Linked DNA regions of Homo sapiens: region 1 is linked to region 2. A link means that fine-mapping ties the variant in region 2 to the expression of a gene that starts in the linked region. Tissue or cell type: pancreatic islets. Region 2 holds a variant in brackets; the other region holds the start of a gene. All regions are shown on one strand. Distances are between the middles of the regions.

Region 1 (8,000 bases), 37 kb before region 2:
GGCATACACCTATAATCTCAGCTACTCGGGAAGCTAAAGTGGGAGGATCACTTGGGCCCTGGAGTTGGAAGCTGCAGTGAGCCATGGTTGCACCACTGCACTTTAGCCTGGGCAACAGTGAGACCCAAAAAAAAAAACTATATATATATTTTTTTCTCATATATATATATATATATATATATATATATATATATATATTAGAGAAAGATACTGATGGAATAAATAAAAGGATACATGTATGAATGAGCTCTGGATTCCCAGCATTTGAAGCATTTTGGAGTTCTCGGAAGAGAAAATGGAGGATATTAAGGGAGAAAGAAACAACTCAATAGGCAGACCAGTACTGAAGCAGAATATATTCCAGGGTGTGGGTCTGAAGCTGAAAGATATGTCACCATGCCTGTCTCATCCCCAGGGAATATATACTAAGCTGTAAAATTATATCGAATCCATTTTTTATTTTTTGAGATAACAGTAAAAAGGACTCAAAAGAGGATATAGAAGGAAGCACTATTTAACCAGTTTCATATTATAGCTAACTTCTTTTGATTCCATTTACCCAAAATCATGACCATCAACCTTCTCTTATATACATACCCCTATTTTTTACATAGTCTCCTCATTTATAGAGACTAGGCTACAAAGAACTATAGAAATTCCATGAAATAATTTCTGTAAGGAAAAAGGGCAGAAAAGGCAATGAAGAAAAGATCTGCTTTAGAATTTCCCTATGACCCAGCAGATGGTGCAATAGGCACATTACTCTGCCTTCCAGACAGGCAGAAAAAAATGAGTGCACACAGATGGTACTGGAACTTCACTGTTTATCCTTGCTAGTTTTGTTTGTTTGTTTTTCCTAGGTGAAACACTCCATTCCTGAAGAACTGTTTCCAAAACCCTTCCTTTACCAAGACATGAATATTTCCCTACTTGCTGACTATTCCTAGGAAAAAGCAGATTTGAATTTGAATTCTGTCTTCTCCACTTAACAGCTAAGTGACTTGAAACAAGTTACAGATTTCATCTGAGCCTCAGTTTTCTCATCTGCAAAATGGAAATATAATATCTAGATAACAGGGTTGTTGTAAGAATTAATGAAACAATGTACACCCACACACAAAGCACTGTGCTTGTCATAAAAAGGAATGTAATTTTCATTCTTCTGCCAACACACAGAGAAAGGCACTCAAAAACCTAGAACATGGCACATACCATAGAAAAGCTTTTCTCCTGAAACCTATCATCTCCAAGTGGAAAAACCACTAACCAAACCCATGATGGAGGAATCTTCATGTCCAACTCTGTTACTATGGAGCACACACTCTAAAAAAAACAAGAAACTGTTTTGAAAGTGACTTTTGTGATAATCTAGTCCTACTCTTAATAAGTAATTCTCAATGGGGAGAGAAGAGACCAAGACGCATATGTAATATGCTTCTTATTTTCATGATACAAACGAGGAAAAAAAGCCCAACAAAATTCTAGTTGGTGAGCATATCCAGAAAACAACGTAATGAAAGAATTAATTTTTTCTTTAATAGTAAAAAACTATTCATATGATACTTGACAATAAATTCAGTTACTTCACAAAGAGCTCACTGCATTTTCAGTCAATGCAAATATTAAATATTTCTCCCTTACATCAAATCAAAATTTATCTCCCTTTTACGAGCAGCCAAAGGTCCCTTGTTCTGTTCCCTTTCCCCACCACCCCACACATGCTGATATTTACAAATTCACCTTCACTCTTGTTCTCTCATGCAAGAGTTAGTGGTTCTGATGTCCCACACTTTTCAGCCCTTCTTTTCTCTCAGATCCTCCTCTCCCAGAGAATCTTCCTGAAAAGCAAATACAGAAGAGGAGCAAAGAGTGGTAAACTACAGCCTGCAGTTCATAGCTAGCTTGTCATCCATTTTTGTGTAGCCTACAGGATAAAAAGGTTTTCTACATTTGTAAGCGGTTGAAAAAATATATGATATGTGAAATTATATGACATTCAAAGATCAGTATTGATAAATAAGTTTTACTGAAACATAGCCATGCTCATTTGTTTACATATCATCTATGGCTGCTTTTATGCTACAATAGCAGAGTTGAGTAGTTGCAACAAAAACTATCTGTCCTGCAGAGATAATATTTTGTACCATCTGGCCCTTTACAAAAAAAAAAGTTTGCTGGCCCCTATTTCAGGAGAACACTAGCCCCAAGAGCACGTTCACCTGGAATAGTCTTCTCTCACAACCCTCTCCTCCCTTCGTGACAACAGCTGGTTCCTGCAGGAAATCAGTCTTCACTCAGCAAATTCCACCCCCCTTTACTCCCACAGTCTCAGCCACACCTTTAAAAAGTCATTGTTCTGATGAAGCATGAAAACCTGGCCCAATCAGATGTCCAGAGGAAACACGGCTACAGAATGGATACTGACTCTGCAGCCCTCTGGGCAATTCTTAAAAGAAAACACATAGCCTAACAATAGTTGAATTTGGAATCATGTAATTTATCACTTGCCAACAGTTGCTACCACACCTTCTCAAATCCTGATGACCATATTGCACAAGTTTTAAGTCCATGTAACTTCACACACCTTCAGTGAAATTTGTGTTATATGTTCACAATGGAAGAAATGCAGAGCGAGGGCCTCAGAAAAAAGCAGAAAGCCACTCATTGATTCTCAATGCTAAGATTCCGTTTATATTCAGGTAAAATCATGTCCTCTGAGGCAAAGATGGCAAGAGAGAGGGCAGACCCTAGTCCTCCTGTGAAAAGATGGAAGTTGGCCAATGCAGAGGACTATAGTCTTGATCCTTGCTTCTCTTTCAAATGAATTCAAACTGACATTTATTGGAGACCGTTATGTGACAAGCAGTATACTAGGTCTCCAAATGACATAAGGATAAATAATGTCCATTCCTTATTCTCAAGGAGCTCATAGCCTAGAAATGAAATAAGCCCATAGACAAATGTGTGTGTCTGTGTGTGAATGTGTGTGTTTGTGAAAGGCAAGGATATACAACAAATAACTAACAGTAGTTATTTTTGGCTAGTGGCTTTAAAGGTATTTTGATTTTATCTTATTTGCTTATCAATATTTTCTAATTTTTATATTAAACAATAATTGTATAGTAAAACAATTTTTAAAGATTACAATATAGTATGATTGATACAACAATAAATATGAATAAGGTACACAATTACAACTCCCTCTTGAGTAATTCAGGAAAGATTTTCTATGGGAAGCCTAAATTGGATTTTGAAGAATAATTAGTTCACTAGGCAGACAATGAGGAAAGACATTCTAAGAAAAAATATGAAATAACATATCCCATGGTATATTGAGGAAGTTTGAAATATTACTAGTTAATTACTGTTGGAGTACAAAGAGAAATATGGAGGGGAGAAATGGAGCTGGAAAAAAGCCACAGCCCAGATCATGAGGAACCATGGATACCATGCTAACAAGCACGCATTTCTTCCTAAGGTTATATGGTGTTTGAAATGAAAGCTATGGTGATGAATGGCCAATAAGGGGTCTGGTAAATTGAGGTACTTAATGAGTTAAAGGATGGCCTGGAGCCATTATCCAATTCAAAAGGTAATAACAATACCAAAGATGACACTTTGGCTGGAATACCATTTAAGAACATTTAGCTTAGAATGGGAGAGTTTGACTAGATGATCTTTACAGTCCTTTTAATCATCAATTTCCATGATTTTTTGACATTTGGGCCATGATGTCCCTGCACACACTCCATTCAACTTCTATTAAAATCCACACAATTTGTTGTCAATATATTGTGCTAGATAGTTTGATGAATACAAAAACAGGCCTTTCTGCAGTGTCCTGACCCTTTGGCAGGTGGGGCTGAGAGTAGCCCAGATTTGGGAACTGCTAATGCAATCTTAGGTGAACCTGTAAGGAAGTCAGGAAGAAGGTAAACACCTGGGAGGTGGAGATAGAGGTGGAGATGGGCTTGTTTAGGAGTAAATTAGGACATCTCAAAATTAGCAACTCCTCCCTAAGAGGGACCATTATTCCCTCTATAAAAAGGCCACTCTGCCCAACTCGCAGCACCCTGAAAGCTGTTTCTGTCTCTACCCTACTTGTTCCTCTGGTGAGCTAGGTAAGTGAGCAGTTCAACTCCGCTCAAGGGTACTTAGGGCTATAAATTATGAAAGTCCAGGATGTGCTCTAAGGCAAAGAGGCACTAGATACAAGGCTTCTTTTTAGTATACTCTGGGGAACTTTGGTATAAGTTTAAATTTACTGAAAAGAAAAATGAAACAAAGACTAGGACTATGTATATTATCTCCTTTCTTTGAGGTCGCTTCCCTTATAACATGGATATCATGGGGTTCTAATTATCCACAGGCAGGTTGCCTTCTTTACAACTGAGCTTTTCCTCTCTATTGTGTAATAAGGTCTGAGGGTCACTTCCTGCTTGGAGAATGAGAACAGAAGCTGGATCTAATAGCAGTTACCCTTAGCTTCATATCACCTAGGCTTGTTGGCTTTGCTCACATTGTCTATTTTCTCTGACCTAGAAGTCTTGAGAGTTCAGTTCAGCCATTGATGCTCCTTAGGTTGAGTAAGGCATGTCATGTAGATGATGGACCTATGCCCACAGTATGCTTCGAACCTAGAAAGAGGAAGCAGATGAAGTGGAACACTCAGGACTTCTACAGCTCCAGAACAAAGCTAATATTATCCCTGGTAATGGCAGGAAGCCAAAAACAGAAAGTCATTTTTCCTACATTCATTCAGGAATGGAAATAAGACCTATGGATTATATTCCTAATTTCATCACTCTCTTGCTACATGGCTTGAACAAGTCATTCAACTCTGAATTGGTTCTTGATTACAACAGAATGAATTTAATCATGACTGACTAATTCTGAACAATTATTATAAATAATTAGAACTATTTATGTGTTTAAACAAGAAATAAGAATAGTAAGGGGTTGGTCTCTCTTTTTCCTCCCTTTAGGTTACTCAAACTTGCAAAAAAAAAAATGCCTAAACTCCTACAAGGCGTCATCACTGTCATCGATGTTTTCTACCAATATGCCACCCAGCATGGGGAGTATGATACGTTGAACAAGGCAGAGCTGAAAGAACTTCTGGAAAATGAGTTTCATCAAATTCTGAAGGTAAGAACTCCACGCCAGGATGGAGTTATGCAGGAATTTTCTTCTTTATCCCTTTCCACCTTCTTGTCACATATGTCAAACATCCTAGAGGATTGTCCTTACTTGGTGAGAGAGAACAGGGTTTGGTAAAAGTTTGAGATAAGGTCAAAAGCAGATCCGTGATGGTTTCCATAGCATAACTAACGGAAGTGACCTTACTAAACAACAAACAAAACCCACAGGTTAAATAATGTCCTATCTAAGTGACTAATTCCTACAAACCCAGACAGTCCTCAGAAAAACTGTGAAGTAGATTTCTGAGTTCAGGAAATTGGCATTTACTCCTGAATCACAAAAGAATGTGTCCACCACCTTAAAACTGTCAGGTCTAGATTTGATAGCTTAGATATTTGGGACCTTATATCAGACTCCTGAGTTTCAATTCCTTAAATTTGGATTTCTGTGGATTTCAGATATGATATTCAGATATCAGATGTCAGATATTCAGTGTGTCAGCTATGAATCTCATAATCTTCCCCACTAACCTTTTTCCTTCATCTTTTTGCCCAAAGCAAAAACCTGGTGTCATTTTTTATTGTCTCTCTCTCAGCAGACACCACTACCTTCTAACCTCCATCTAACTCATCAATAATCTCTCAAAACAACCCATTTCTCTTCATCACTATTATTAGTCCTCTGGTTCAGGCCACCTACTACTTCTACTCTCAGCATTGGATGCAAATATAATCATTTCACTCCTCAGCTAAAAATCCTTCAATAGTTCCCAATTGCTCTTAAAATGAAGTACAAAGTTCCTTAACATAACTTAAAAGTCATAATCTAGTCCCTATTTGTCTCTCTATCCACATTTCTTGACTCTTCAAACTCTAAATCTAGCAATCCTGAATTTCCTTCAGTTCCTTGAATGCTCCATAACTTCTCTCACCTCTAGCCCTTTGTTCATATAATTCCCTCTGCCTAGAACAATCTTTTCCCCTTCTCTTTCTCTTCCTACTTCTTCATTTGGCTAATCCTAATCCATCCTTCAAAAGGCATCATTTCCTCTCATTAACCTTTCTAGGACCCCCAATGTTTCCTCTCTGATGTACTCTTGTAGAAACCTTACCACAATAAATTATAATTTTAAGTTTGTATATCTGGCCAACTAAACTTTAAATTCCATTTTTTTTCAGGAAGCAAACTTGTTCACTTCTTTATACTCTCATATGACATAATGGTAGGCAACTAGTAAAATAATAAATCTTTGTTCAGTGAGTAAATTAAGTAGCTAGTTAATTTAATTGGATAAATAAAGTTGATATAATTAATGTAGGTATAAAAACATATTACTTATAAATTAGCTAATCATTCATATTTGACCCATTCTTTACCAAAAATAATCAGCCCTCTTGTTTCCTTTCATCTTCCAGTTGCATCCTATTCTAGCTGTTTCCCACCACATTATTCATTCCATATTCCTTTTTCTCTTTCTGCTCAGGATACAGAAATGCAGCCTAAAGGACTGTGTGAATGAGTTCCATATAAATAACCCAAACATTTACATTTTCACATCTTTCCTTCAGTTCGTTAGCCAGATGTATTGTCCATACTAACAGAGCTACTCTTTGTACCTTTCTCTTATACAGAATCCAAACGATCCAGATACTGTGGATATCATCTTGCAAAGTCTGGATCGAGACCATAACAAGAAAGTGGATTTTACTGAGTATCTTCTGATGATATTCAAGCTGGTTCAGGCTCGTAATAAAATCATTGGCAAAGATTACTGCCAAGTTTCAGGGTCAAAGCTGAGAGATGACACTCACCAGCACCAAGAGGAACAAGAAGAAACTGAAAAAGAGGAGAACAAACGGCAAGAATCCTCTTTTAGTCATTCAAGTTGGAGTGCAGGAGAGAATGATTCCTATTCCAGAAACGTCAGAGGAAGTCTTAAACCTGGGACTGAATCCATATCCAGAAGACTGAGTTTTCAAAGAGACTTTTCTGGCCAACATAACTCCTACTCAGGTCAGTCTTCCAGCTATGGTGAGCAAAACTCCGACTCCCATCAGTCTTCAGGCCGCGGCCAATGTGGGTCTGGGTCAGGGCAGTCTCCCAACTATGGCCAACACGGCTCTGGCTCCGGACAGTCTTCCAGCAATGACACACATGGGTCTGGCTCAGGCCAGTCTTCTGGCTTTAGTCAACACAAGTCTAGCTCAGGGCAGTCCTCTGGTTACAGTCAGCATGGATCTGGCTCAGGTCACTCCTCTGGCTACGGACAACACGGCTCTAGGTCAGGACAGTCATCTAGGGGTGAACGACACAGATCTAGCTCAGGTTCGTCTTCCAGCTATGGTCAGCATGGGTCTGGTTCCCGTCAGTCTTTGGGCCACGGCCGACAAGGGTCTGGATCTCGCCAGTCTCCTAGCCACGTCCGACATGGGTCCGGTTCGGGGCACTCCTCCAGCCACGGCCAACACGGGTCTGGCTCAAGTTACTCTTACAGCCGTGGCCATTATGAGTCTGGCTCAGGCCAGACTTCTGGCTTTGGGCAACATGAGTCTGGCTCAGGACAGTCCTCTGGCTATAGTAAGCATGGTTCTGGCTCAGGTCACTCCTCTAGCCAGGGACAACATGGATCTACGTCAGGGCAGGCATCAAGCTCTGGCCAACATGGCTCCAGCTCACGTCAGTCTTCCAGCTATGGTCAGCATGAGTCTGCCTCCCGTCACTCTTCAGGCCGCGGCCAACACAGCTCTGGATCTGGCCAGTCTCCAGGCCACGGCCAGCGTGGGTCTGGGTCAGGGCAGTCTCCCAGCTCCGGCCAACATGGGACTGGCTTTGGTCGATCTTCCAGCAGTGGCCCATAT
Region 2 (8,000 bases):
CCTCCCAGCAAGTGTAGGCATGAAGGGAAAGGGGTGTGGCACATGTCCAGAGTTCCCTGGGCCAGAGGTGAAGAGAACTGACTCAGGCTCAGAGAGGCAGCTCAAGGGGAGCAAGCACAGCGAACAAGGGGCACAACTCCCAAATAGGAGCAATGCAAAGTCTCCACTCAAGTGGAAAGATCAACAACTGAGACTACAAGAGACAAGGAGGCAGTTCTAGAGGGGAACTAAGGATCCAGATGGGATATCTAATTGAGGAGTGAAAAGCATAGCATAAGCTCAGTCTCATAGACAAGTTCAACACAGGATAAAGGGAGTAGAGACTTGGGGGATAACCAGAGGCACAACAACTGTCAGCAAAAGGAATCCAGTGAAATTCTGGAACCTACAAACCAAGAATGGGTGACCAAGTTTAAGGACCTGACCTAATTCTAAGCTGTAGGTACAGATTATCAGTGGGCTTGTCTTGGGGGAAATGGGGAAAGTAGATGAAAAAGAGATGAAGGCCAAAATGGTTATGTATAGATTATTTGTCCCTTACGGGCAGGAGACAGGCTTTATGCCTCATTTCTATCCTCCACACCAGTTAGCAAAATAAATATTTACTGATTATGTAAAAAAAGAAAGATCACAGAGAATTTGGTATTACCCAATGATGGGAAGTATGCCAAGATAACCTTAGTCATGATTTAAGCAAGTTATGTATTGTGAAGTCTCCATCACCCTAAAAACACCAAGTGGTAATGTGATCTGGTGAATGAACACGACTGGAAATGAGGACATGAAACCAGACCAGTTTTGTTAGAAACCTCTTATGAGACCCTAAACAAGTTACTTTACTTATCTGAACCTCAATTACCTCATCTTTAAAGGAGTAAATGTAATAACTCCAATTTTTTCATATCTAGAACACACTTCCCGCCAGATCTGACTAATTTCCTCACATCTTTTGAATCTTTGCTCAATCTTGCCTTCCTAATGAAGCCTATTTAATACTAACCACTCTATTTCATACTGCAACCTGCCCATCCCACCAACCCTACCCACACACACAAACACTGGTCTACATTTTTTCTTTTTCATAACACTTCTAACATTTTACATAATTTATTATCTTTATTGTTGTGTGCTAGAATGTGATCTCTATGAAGGCAAAGATCTTTGTCTATTCTATTCATTGATATACTTCACATCTCTGAGTGGAAACTGGAACAGAGTAAACATCCAATAAATATTTGTTGAATGAATACATGAATCGATCTTTAAAAAGGCCAAAATCTTGTGAAAGACCAGAATAATAAATCATTTATATTCTCCCTGAGACCAGGGTCGGCCTCCCACACCCTCAGGCATCCCTATATCCCCTGGTACAGTGTACCATAGTGTGGAATAAGTATTCAATACGTCCCTACTAAATTACTAATTAAACATGGGACCCAAAAAGACAAACATAACCGCGTGCTCTGGGGCCACCTGCTGGCAACTCTTAGTAGGTACCTAAGCAACCAAACTGACAAGAATTTTCAGTGATGAATGGAGTGGCAGGGATTATCTCCTTTCAGCCAGTGAGAACAATCAGGCAACAGACGGCAACAGGAGGAAGGAGGGTAGGCTGGAAATCAGACGTTTCCAAAACCTGCTGTGAAGGACCATACACCCACTGTTTCCCAGAACTCACTTTCTACTTAACAATAATAACGGTAAGTACCCTGTACTGTTTTAAGCACTTTCATGTATCATCTCATTTAATCCTCACATTAATCCGCTGTACCATCTTTACCACCATTTTATAAATGACCAACATTTCCTTTTGAAATAATTACTTTACTTACGTGAAGCAGTGAAGCGGTAAAACAGTGTAAACTATTATTAGTAAGAAAAATCAAGGCATGACTTTTGGGGAGTACCAAGGCACCATGTGCGGGCAGAATGTGACACGCCTGGAGAGGACCAACGACGCCCCAAGGGGGCTGACCTACCAGCCCGCCCCTCAAGCCAAGCACAACCTCAGTCCGGGGTTCTGGATCCCAAAGTCCGCTCCGTTACATTCGGATCACACCAGAACAAGGAGGCAGCCCGCGCCCCGGCTAGCGAGCTCTGCGCCAGGGGAACGCGTGCCGGCGCCCTTAAGCTCCCAAAGCCCCTTCTCGGCGAAGCCGCCGGGGGACGCGGGCCCCGGAAGTGCAGCCCCTCCGCCCGGAAGCAGCTTTTCCTACTTCCCTTGGCGCGACGGGAGCCTGTGTTCACCAGTGCTCCGGCTGAGGCCAGATTCCTGAGGCCGTTCCTTTCGCTGTTTCCGAACGCACAGCCCCGAGAGGCCGGAGGGGATACGAAAGACCTAGGCCGATGGCCCTTCCACACTGCCGCCCCTCGGCTCCCCACCTCTACCAAGGGAGGCCACTGATGTCAGATTCCTCTGTGTTCTGGGAGGATGTTCTGGCCGAGGTCCGCGACCGGGCCCAGCAGCTGCCTGGGGCAGTCCCCGTGATCCTAACAGAGAACGGGGCCTCGGCTCGCAGGATCCCGCTCTGGGCTCCAAGGGCTCCTCGTATTGTAGGAGCTTTCCGCAGCCCCTCTAGGCGCTGGGACCCTTTGGTGGGATAACGGCTAGGGTTCCCTACTCCGTCCAGTGCCAGCGTCCGGCCTCTGAAAGACTTTCCTCAGCCTCCACCTTATCCCGTAAATAAGGACTTCAGGTGACCTGCAAGTGCGCCCCCTGCTGGCCCGTCGGACTCCCACCACCTTGGTTCGCCCCAACAGCCTTGGCTACATGGTTTCCCAAATGGAGTACCAAGATAGTCTTAAGTGCTACATGCACTTTTTAAGAATGTTTGAGTATTTATTCTTATTTGTGTTAGAAAATACTAAAACCAGCCCAACAAACCGGTTATCTCAAATATTAGTGTAAGGCTAAATTCTTAAGTGAGTAGTTAACATTGGTTCAAAAATATTAGGCCGGGCATTGTGGCTCATGCCTCTAATCCCAGCACTTTGGGAGGCCGAGGTGGGTGGATCACATGAGGTCAGCAGTTCAAGACCAGCCTGGCCAACATGGTGAAACCCCGTCTCTACCAAAAATACAAAAATTAGCCGGGCATAGTGGCACGCACCTGTAATCCCAGCTACTAAGGAGGCTGAGGCAGGAGAATCTCCTGAACCTTGGAGGCAGAGGTTGCAGTGAGCCGAGATCGCGCCACTGCACTCTAGCCTGGGCAACAGAGCGAGACTCTGTCTCTAAATAAATAAATAAGAATATTATTATTATATATACACAGATATTGCAAAAATCTTGAAGGTGGTACTCAGATGACTAAAGGAGAAAACTCAGTCTCACAGAGTCAATCAAGGGAAAAAACGGGTGTGGTAGTTAATTTTATGTGTGAATTTTGTAAACCAAAAATTATCTGAGACGGGTCTCAAATCACCTTAGAAGTTTATTTTGCCAAGGTTAAGGACCACTCCAGAAACAGGTCTGTGCTTTCCCCAATGATAATTTTTTAGGACTTCAATATTTAAAGGGTGAAAGCAGGGTGGAGAAGAAATAGGGAGGGTAGGGTCACATTACTAAATCCACATATTGCAAGATAAAAGGAGAAGAAGGTAAGGGAATAGTCAATTATGTTTCCGTCTCATGCTCAGTAAATCGGTGCTTTACACAAGGTAGGGTGAACATAGAGTGGAGATATTTAATCTTTTATCAGTAGCTATGGGCCTAGGAACAAAAGGAAAGGCCGTTGCTTGCATGACTTACCTTCTGCTTAATTTTTTTCTTTTGGCATAGTGAACTTCCCTTTCACATTTCAGAGGATATTTTTAGATGGGATTAACATTTAAATCAGTAAACTTTGGGTAAAGCAGATTGCCCTCCCTAATGGGGTGGGCCTCATCCAATCAGTTCAAGGCCTGAATAGAACAAAAAGACTAGCATCCCTGAGCAAGAGAAAATTCTCCAGCAGACTGCCTTAGGATTGTGTATAATCAGCTCTCCCAAGTTTCTAGCCTGCTGTCCTACACTGCAGATTTTAGACTCTCCAGCTTCCATATTCACATCAGCCAATTCCTTGTAATAAATCTCTTTCTATAAATACACATGCTGTTGGTTCTGTTTCTGAGAAATCCTACTAATATGGTGGGTGATCTTAAATAGTCTTCCCTCTCTGACACTGAGTGGAGCTTCAAGGAGGACAGCA[G/A]AAGAAAGAGGGCTTGACTCCAGTATCCAAAGTGCTGAGGGCTCACCCTAGGACCTATTCACTGGGCATATTGCTGTAGCTTTACTTCTTCACTCCCCCTTCCCACCAGGTCCCTTGGATGCCAGGTTCTAAAGCACTCCCACTGCTCACTCTTCCTGGAAAAGGGCATTGTGGTGGAATGTTGAAGGAGCTTGGCAGCCAAATCAGCATATCCAGTGTCGTGACTCAACCCCTTCACAGCTCGCAACCTTAGTTTATCAAAGTCCCTTCCCTTCTCTGGAATTCCATTGTATCTGTATGATGAGAAGGCTTGATTAGGTGATGTCTAAGGTCTCTACTAGAGGTGAGCGCCTTTTCCCCACTCCTGGCCTCTTTTCACTCCTTTCTTCTCCTTGCCCCTGAGATGGTAGAAGGACTTAACTGGTTGGTAAATTTTGTAAGAATAATTGGCTTAGCTCTACTCTGCTTCTACTTGGGAACTGCAGAGATCCCTATGGCATAATAGGGACTTACTCTTAGGCAAGGATGCCCAGGCCTGTCATGATTAGGTGGGTAAGTTAGCCTAATTCTCAGTTCTAGTATGAGCAAGCCCCAGCTAGCAGACCTAGCGCTACTAATGTCTTACTTAATCACTATCAATAAAAAAGATGACATTTTGAGCACCACATTTTCTTTCTATTTTTCAGTACAGTTCAGAACAAGGGCAAAGAAATAAAACAGTTCCGTTTACTGAGATCCCTTTGCAGAACACAGTAATTCCTTCTAGCCCTTTCTAGCACTTATTAAACAAGACAATATAAAACATCTAATGAATAAATTCACACTAAAGGGCTAATATAACCCTTCATAGGCTATTTATACTTTAAAAAGCACTATAAGAAACAGAAAAAGGGCAGTGCTTTATGGTAGACATTATATAACTATACTACCTCAGTGGAAAGTATATTTTGGAGTAAGACCTTTTTCAGGGCCTCTCAAATTACACCCGTCTGTTCATCCGTCAACAGTTGTTAAGAAAGTTAAAAGTAGAGATTATGGAGTTAAATTGTCTGGGTGCAAATCCTGCTGATGTCCCTGACTAGCTGTGTGGCCTTGGGTAGGTTGTTTAACCTCTCTGTGCCCTAATTTTTCCATCTACAAGATGGGGATAATAGTAAGAACTTGAAAGACACTTGGTAAGCACCATAAAACTTCTATTGTGTGTAAGACACTGTGTTACTCCTAAATCCCCCAGGACTTTGCCTCTAGAATAAAATCTATAGAACCAAGAAAGGAAATTGATTGCAGAGGCCGTGGGAATGGTAAAATTAAATCAAATGTAAACATTTGGGCCAGTAACAAGGACGAATTTCTGGACAAACATGACTTTAAAAACAGGACTCTTTTCCCAGGATGAGCTCCTCAAACTGATATCAGATTGACTAGTTCAGCTTCCAAACCCAGGAAGCTCTTTTGGGCACTTGGGACACTCCTGAACAGCATGCACAGGGATTTGCTCCCTGATGATACTGAACGTAATTCCTCCAAACTGCCACCAGGTGTCTACAGACACTCACACACCCTCTGGCTCCTAAGTCAACAGATGGGTACTTTAACTGAGAAAGAAGTTACCAGCCCAAGGGCACGCGGTTTGTTAACGATGAACTCTGTGGTAGAACCCAGGTTTGTGTGGCTGGTTATTATTCAGTCTCAACTCCAAAGTGCCTCAGGGATAGAAGAAGCAAATTTCAAAGAAAGAATCAGGCCCAGGAGGAACCTGACATACCATCATACCTCTGCCTCCTTGAAGGATAACACGAGCCATCCCAACCATAAAAGGATCCTCTACTCCACCAGAAAAGAGATTTAAATTGCCCCTCAGTCTCCCTGAAGCTCAAGCCCAGGGTTTGGCGTTTTTCACTGCTTAGAAGTTTTTCTTGGCTCTGCCTTCAGATGTCAGCCCTGAAATTCTCAGCTTAGACCAGCAAGCCCAGATGTATTTCTTCCCTTTGCCTTTAATGGTCCTCTCCTGGTGAGCACAGAAGTAGTTTGGGCAGCATTCAGTGCAGAGCAGGGATCCCAAATGCAAACATCCTCTCTTCCCTGTCTTAGATCTAGCTGTTAACAAACCTAGAGGTAACTATATGCATCTTTCTTCTTGGTAAACACTGAGTACTTATAGCATGGAGTCCATCATTAGACACAAAGAATGTTCACACTTGCACTACACCTATGTATTTCTCTTGCTTACACAAGGGCACACTACCCCACCACCACTAAATCATAAGTTCCTTGAGGGAGGAACTCTGGCTTTCCTCCCAGCACTACACATGGCAGCTTACACAGTGAATGCTTGTTGAATTTGCCCCAGTGGTGACAAATTTGAGAGGCTTGTGTGGATTCTGTATGTGGGATTTTATGTTCATGTTAGATCATTGCCCCCTACCCTAAGGAGCTCCTACTTTGAAAAATGGCATATGTCTGTCTCCTCAGTGGCAATACGGGCTCTGGGTGTAGACACACATGGGTGGTATAATCCATGGCACAGGACCCTGGATCTTGGGATGAGGCTCAGGCTGAACAAAACTAAGAAAGCAAAGGGAGACATGGGTACAGAAACCTCCATAGCCTGGACCTCCCCTGACTCTATAGCTGCCCTAGGGTGTCATCAGATCCCCTTCTCATCTCTTCTCTTCCCCTTGCTTTCCCTCCACCTTTCTCTCTCTCTCCCCATCTCTCTGCTCCCCTCTTTGCCCCTTTTGCTCTCTCCTCTTACTTCCCCTTTCCCTCCCATCTCCATCGTTCCCATGTTTCCTCTTTTTTTCCATCTCCCTGCATTGAATGAACAAAAACAGAGCTTCATACCTAAGACTCAGAGTCCTCCTAAAGGAGTTCCCGAGATGAGCTCAAGGACAGCTCAAAGGCAATGGCATCTGGAGTCATCTGTGCTAAAGCACTCTGCACCAGTGAGGACTCTTGGAGAAGATTCTTCCTGTACCTCTGTCTGGTCTTATTGGTGTACATCATTCAATAAGTCACTGGCCTCCCAGACGCTGGCTTCCATTGTCCTTTGCACCAAGCCTCCCAGGACAGGACCAGTCCCATCTTGTTCCATAGGAGCCTGCCTCCCACCTTGCCACTTTCAGGCCAGTCCAGTCAAAAAGCCTAGGAGCCTACACTTCCTATAGAAGGCAGTCAGAACACCATCAGGCCCCAGGCCCACTTTAGAAGCCATTAAGTGCCTACTCCATACACAGTTCAATGACAGTACAGCAGCTTCACCACCATTGGGGGAGACACAAACATACAACCCTGAAGTAGGTTTATGCCCTGGGAGCACATGATCTTGCCAATTCTGCTGCCCTGGTCTCAGTTCAACACATCTTCACTGAGTATCAGCTCTGAGCAAGGTGCTGAACTGCCTTCTATGCCAGGTCACAACTAAAAAGCAACCAAACACAAATCTACCCAGCCTGCGGGTCCAATTACTCTGGTAATAGCTTCGCCAGCTATTTTGTCACCTTGTCTCTAACATAGGGGCTCTTCCCACTCACTTCCTTCATAGCTTAGGCCCTGATCTGAGAAATAAAAATCTCAGACACCTCTGCAAAGGGGTCTCTTTAGGAACTGGTGAGCAACTATACGTTTTTATTTACACTTTTGGTCATAATGGTAGGAGATGAAACTTGGCATAAAATGAAGACCACAGGGGAAGGGCCTAGAGCAAAACACACTGGAAATGCCAAATTCCAGAGCAACTCCATGAGCCTGTGATTAGTATGGAGAAATGGGTAATCTCCTTTGACTCCCAAGGCACTGCCAAGACCATGC

Alleles and levels. Alleles are on the strand shown, and positions count from the first base shown. SD is a standard deviation of normalised expression in the study named.
With allele G in place of A in region 2, the expression in pancreatic islets of the gene that starts at base 4,071 in region 1 is higher (moderate effect, 0.60 SD a copy in van de Bunt 2015).

What was found. PIP is the estimated chance that this variant, and not a neighbour inherited with it, causes the effect.
Region 1: HRNR starts here. The variant in region 2 is fine-mapped to the expression of HRNR in pancreatic islets (van de Bunt 2015, PIP 0.95).

What each region holds. Positions count from the first base shown.
Region 1 is chr1:152,220,264-152,228,263 of GRCh38, reverse strand. It overlaps HRNR (hornerin), which reads left to right and starts at 4,071. Exons shown (of 3, transcript NM_001009931.3): 1 at 4,071-4,121; 2 at 4,986-5,148; 3 at 6,774-8,000. The coding sequence starts at 5,011. The region is part of intron 1 of CCDST (cervical cancer associated DHX9 suppressive transcript); the gene reads right to left.
Region 2 is chr1:152,183,488-152,191,487 of GRCh38, reverse strand. CCDST (cervical cancer associated DHX9 suppressive transcript) reads right to left here and starts at 2,185. Exons shown (of 8, transcript NR_186765.1): 1 at 2,007-2,185. The variant G/A (reference allele first, on the strand shown) is at 4,191.